Linked DNA regions of Homo sapiens: region 2 is linked to region 1. Evidence: fine-mapped expression QTL. A gene starts in region 1. The other region holds a variant in brackets. All regions are shown on one strand. Distances are between the middles of the regions.

Region 1 (2,906 bases):
AGTGGGTGCGCACGGCGGTGAGATGACTCCACAGGAAAGGGCCGGCCTTGGGTGGGGAGGGGGGGCACCCGAGCTCAGCCAAGAGGGGCCCCCACCCAGCCAGGAGGGGGCGCTGAGAGGGGCGGAACGACAGCTGGCCCAAAAGGGGTGGGATAGAGTTCCTTGTTAGGCCCAGAGCCAGGGCCTGGAATAGAGTAGGGGACAGGGGAGAGGATGGGGGCGGTTAGAAACATGGGGTGTGCATGGATCCAATCAGGCCTGAGAAGCCAGGGAGGAGGGAAGGGGGTGAGGCTTACTGGGTGCCTCACATTGGACAGGGAAAGCTGAGGACCTAGAACATTTTCCAGGGTCCCATGGGAACATGGCCAGATAAAACCCCCCGGCAGCGGCCCCAGGGCACAGGTTCCCCTGTGTTCCAGCAGAGCTGCACCTGCTGGGCAAGTGAACCCAGAAACCCACCCTCTGCCCGGGATGACCCCATCTGAGTACTGCGGCAGGGGGCGTTCCCATCACAGCCTGCAGGCTCACAGCACCCTGCCATGGAGTCTCCCCAAAATAAAGCTTGGATGAGGCTCCCCTGTCTCTCAGGATGGGGGTGCAGGGGTGAGATGAGGGGCTGGACTTTGGGAAGTGGGTCCAGCTTGTTTCCCTGTTATTTAAGGGGGTGACTCTGGCTTTTGAAAGGATACAAAAAGTCTCTTGGGAAGGGTCCCAGACGGCTTCTGAAAGGGGCTCCCCTCTGCCCATTTCTAGGGAAACCCAATGTTTAGGAGACTGTGTCAGGAAGCATACTATTAGAGGAGATCTCTCCTCTCTTGAACTCAGGAGCTGAATGCCATTCCAAGGGACTCCCTATATGTGGGAAGGCTCCATTTAGGGGTATCCCATATCACCTAGGATCCCAGGCACCTGGTGGCAAAGAATACCCTCAATTTTGGGGGGTTCAGAGGCCAGAGGGATCAATATGTGGAGGGCGAATATCTCCCGCAGAAGCCTGGGGACTGCTCAAATGCAATCACCCCTAATTTATCAGGAATCCCAAGTTCCACCCCCAACCAGGAGGGTAAATGAGCCTTGGGTAGCGAGAAATCGGGAACCCCGAAGCCGCTCTTGGCCAGAGGGGCGGGGCAGCCAGAGACGTAGGGAATCCCCCACCCCTGCAGTCCCTAAGGGTGGAGAGTGCGGTGGGGATGTGCCTCCAACTGCGCGCCCCGGGGCGTTCTTGGCTCGCACCCGCGAACCCCACCCCCCCCAACAATCCAGCTCAGGGGTCTCCAGGAGGAGAGCCCCCCAATTCCCAGAACTCCTGCCCCCGAACTTCAGTACCTTGCGCGCTGCAGCCCCAGCGCCATGGCTCGCCAGTCGCCGCTCCGGAGCCCTCGGAGGCCCCTAGCCCCCTCCCCGGCCTTGCGAGCCCCCTCCCCAGCTCCTCCCCACGCCGCGCGGTTGGCTGTGCCACGCCAGGCCTGAGGCTCTGATTGGGCAACGGTATGTCACTCCTGAAAAGGAGGCGGAACCAGAGGGAAAGACTTGGAAAGGCAAGGGGGGGATACCGTGTAATACACACCCCCCAACCACGCCCCTCGCCGCGGACTTCCTCGGCAGTGTATCCCGCACCGTCGGCTGAACGCGCCTTCTCTAGTCCAGCCTCTGAAGTGCCAACGCCAGTACTCTTCTGAACCCACTCAGTTCACTCTGCTCTCTGGACCCCAGTCCCCAGCCTCTAACCCCCACCTCTTCTCACCTTTCCATTTCCTAACCCCAGTTGAGCCCCTCTGACCTCCAATCCCACCCCTTCCAAACCCCTAGCCCTGCCTTCTCTATCCCTTCTAAGGTATTCACAGAGTACCCCACATCTCCTCCCCACCCCCCAACTCCCAACCCCACCCCAGTTCCACAATCCTTGGCCCTCTGGCACCTACCCTTCTCTCTCTCTCCCCAGCCCCTCCCTGCCACCCCAGTCCCATACCCCACTTCGCCCCCATTCCTCCAGTCTGCACCCTCTGCACCCCAGCTTACCTTCCCTACCCCCTCTACTCCACCCTAACCTCTTGGCCTCTCTGACTCCCTTTTCAGGTTCCCATTGATGAATAATTAAGCTTATGTCAAGTAAATATGTTTTAACTCAATCACACCTACTTCAAAAAAGAGCCGAGAAATGTATTTTTTTTTAACTAGTCGACTATGAAGGGAGAAGTACAAAGGTACCAAGCAAGGGTGAAAGCATTACAGTTGGATAAGGAACAGAGTGTGTGTGTGTGTGTGTGTGTGTGTGTGTGTTGGACCACTATTCTGGATTTGGTTGGCAGGGAAGAGGATACTACAGCAGAAGTGGCCTTGTTGAACCTTGAACTTGCCAGGCAAGTTGCTCACCTTAGGGCCTTTGCACTTGCTGTTCCCACAGCTTAGCACACTCTTCCTCCAGGAATCCACACGGCTCCCCGGCTCACGCCAGTTCCCCACTCTGTTTTCTTTTGGGAAACCACTTCTCTGTCCTCTTCATCTATTTAATTTGAATAGGGCTTGGCCACTGCTCTGCCTTCACCAGCTCCAGGGATGGACATAGGATCCAAACCTGGCTAATCAGTTGAGTCTGCTTCCCTGGCCACAGTGATTGGTTCAGGGAAGGCATGTTACCTAATTTAGCCCAATGAGAATCAACCCTGAGACATTTGCTGAAACCATTAGGAAAGAGGATTTTCTATGTCTGCTGGAATTGCTGGGCAGATGGAGCAGATGGGGCTCACACTGCCACAAAGAGAGGAGAGGCTTTATGAGATGAGGTTCAGTGCAAAAGAGATTGTGCAGAAATGAACGATTGTGAAAGGCAGTTTTGACACCAGCACTTGAGTGCCTGGATCCAGCCATACCTGAACTCCAGTTTAATTCTTGGATTTTTCAAATGA
Region 2 (2,906 bases), 26 kb before region 1:
TATAAATCAGGATATTAGACACTTTGACTCTTTGAGGTCAAAGTTCAGAGAACTGGATGCTTAGTCACAAGCTGGAGTGGGAGGAGGGTCATCTGTGCCAGTTCCAAACATCCCAGGTTAGGGGCCTGATAGGGTTTGGCTGCGTCCCCACCCAAATCTCATCTTGAACTATAGTCCCATAATTCCCACACACTGTGGGAGGGACCTGGTCAGCGATAATTGAATCATGGGGGTGGTCTCTCCCATACTGTCCTCGTGATAGTGAATAAGTCTCATGAGAGCTGATGGTTTTATAAGGGGAAACCCCTTTCGCTTGGTTTTCGTTCTCTCTTGCCTGCCGCCATGTAAGACATATCTTTCACCTTCCGCCATGATTGTGAGGCCTCCCCAGCCATGTGGAACCGTGAGTCCATTAAATCTTTTTTTCTTTATAAATTACCCAGACTTGGGTATGTCTTTAGCAGCAGCGTGAAGACAGACTAATACAGGGCCTGTGGTGTTATTTTATACACACATATATATATATGATTTTGTGCATGGTTCCTGGGTCAAACTCCCATGGCCGTTGTCTTTTGTTAGAACAGTCTTTTATTAGAACAGTCTAGTAAAACAGTTCTAACAGTCTTTTGTTAGAACACTGGGTGTGTTAGGCCTCAGGAAACAGAACCTCTCCAGCCTTCTTCTGCCCTCGTTTCACCTGCCCAAAGGCAGGTCTCTAATCTTCCCCTGCCTTTTTGATTGTGGGTCATAAGACTGTCCCCAGAGGCCGGGCGCGGTGGCTCATGCCTGTAATCCTAGCACTTTGGGAGGCCGAGGCGGGTGGATCATGAGGTCAGGAGTTCGAGACCAGCCTGACAAACATGGTGAAACCCCGTCTCTACTAAAAATAAAAAAATTAACTGGGCGTGGTAGTGTGCGCCTGTAATCTCAGCTACTTGGGAGGCTGAGGCAGGAGCATTGCTTGAATCCAGGAGGCGCAGGTTGTGGTGAGCTGAGATCATGCCATTGCACTCCAGCCTGGGCGATAAGAGCAAAACTCCGTCTCAAAAAAAAAACAACAAAAAAAAAACCACTGTCCCCAGAGAGGGTCCTGCCCGATACCCTGGGGGAAGGAATGCTGATGTCATGAAGCTTCCATAAAAACCCAAGAGGACTGGGTTGGAGGGGCTTCCAGATAGCTGACCCATGGAGGTTTCTGGAGGGTGGTGCCCGGGACGGCATGGAAGCTCCGAAACCCTACATTCCTCCATACCTCACTCAATGTATCCCTTCATCCGTATCCGTGCAATATCCTTGACAATGAACCAGTAAACCTAAATAAGTGTTGTCCTGATTACTGTGAGCCGCTCCAGCAAATTAATCAAACCCAAAGAGCCAGGTACGGTGGCTCACACCTGTAATCCCAGCACTCTGGGAGGCCGAGGCCGGAAGATCACTTGATGTCAGGAGCTCGAGACCAGCCTGGCCAACATGGTGAAACCCTGCCTCTACTAAAAATACAAAAAATTAACCAGGTGTGGTGGCATGCACCTGTAATCTCAGCTACTTGGGAGGCTGAGGCAAGAGAATTGCTTGAACCTCGGAGGTGGAGGTTGCAGTGAGCCGAGATTGCGCCACTGCATTCCAGCCTGGGTGACAGAGTGAGACTCCATCTC[G/A]AAAATAAAAATAAAAATAAAAAAGAAATTCTGGAGGCCCAGACTTGTGACTGGTGTCTGAAGAGCAAAGAGCAGTCTTGGGGACTGAGGCCCAACCTGTGAAATCTGACACTATCTCCAGGTAGATGATGCCGGAATTGAATTGGAGGACACCCAGCTGGTGTCCGCTGCTTGGTGTGTGGGAAAAACTGCCCACATTTGGTCACAGAAGTCTTCTTCTGTGTTGACGATTGTTGCATTATTAGGAGAGCAGAGGAAAAACATAGCTTGAGAGAGTTTTTCCCTAAACAGAGCCAGACTCTGGAATTCTAACAATTGAAAAATCTGGATCTGCGTCTTAAAGGAACCTCAACCCCATCTCATCCCAACCTCCCCACTACACAGATGGAGAAGCTGAGGCCCAGAGAACAGTCAGGTTTAAGTCACAGGCCAAGACCCCCTGAGGGACTGAGCACTGGATGCTGAGGGCTCACATGGGTGGGATGGCTTACCGAAAGAGGACTTTGGGGGTGCCGTGTGGCCAGCGGGGTGCTGGGAGTGGCTGCTACTGAAGCCCCATCCAGGATGGGTCCCAGGAGGCGACGGAGGTCAGGGCTGCAGAAACGGCGGGGGTCAGCGGCCAGGGCAGCCTCGCTCAGGGAAGGCGGGTGCAGGAAGGCAAGGATCCGGGGGCCAGGGGTGTCTGCAGGACACATGGAGATGGGGAGGACACGGGCTGGTGACTGAGGGCCAAGGGCCAGAGCCCTCCATACCAACCCCAGGAACACAGTTGACATCTTCAGCAGGTCAGGATGGCCACTGTTCTTAGTGAGAGGGTAAGGAAGGGGCCTGGAGGACCCCTGCTGGGCCAGGTGTGAACTTTATTTTTATTTTTGAGATGGAGTCTAGCTCTGTTGCCCAGAATGGAGTGCAGTGGCACTATCTCAGTTCACTGCAGCCTCTGCCTCCTGGGTTCGAGCAATTCTCCTGCCTCAGTCTCCAGAGTAGCTGGGATTACAGGTGCCCGCCATCACACCCAGCTAAGTTTTGTATTTTTTATAGAGACAGGGTTTCACCATGTTGGCCAGGCTGATCTCAAACTCCTGACCTCAAGTGATCCGCCCACCTCGGCCTCCCAAAGTGCTGGGATTGCAGGCATAAACCACTGCTCCCAGCCCAGGTGTGAACTTCAGTGGCCAGATTGTGGTGAGGCTCTGAAAGGTCCGAGGGGAAGGGATTGGTGGCTCAGAACAGCATTTGGCCATTCAGCTC

The links. PIP is the estimated chance that this variant, and not a neighbour inherited with it, causes the effect. A credible set is the group of variants that fine-mapping cannot tell apart.
Region 2: its variant is the best candidate, but not a certain one, in a credible set for the expression of HIF3A in caudate (GTEx, PIP 0.53).

What each region holds. Positions count from the first base shown.
Region 1 is chr19:46,295,523-46,298,428 of GRCh38, reverse strand. It overlaps HIF3A (hypoxia inducible factor 3 subunit alpha), which reads right to left and starts at 1,387. Exons shown (of 15, transcript NM_152795.4): 1 at 1,327-1,387. The coding sequence starts at 1,352.
Region 2 is chr19:46,321,207-46,324,112 of GRCh38, reverse strand. HIF3A (hypoxia inducible factor 3 subunit alpha) reads right to left here. Exons shown (of 15, transcript NM_152795.4): 10 at 2,147-2,337. Among named protein-coding and RNA genes, the nearest start is that of PPP5C, 24 kb to the left of the region's middle. The variant G/A (reference allele first, on the strand shown) is at 1,656.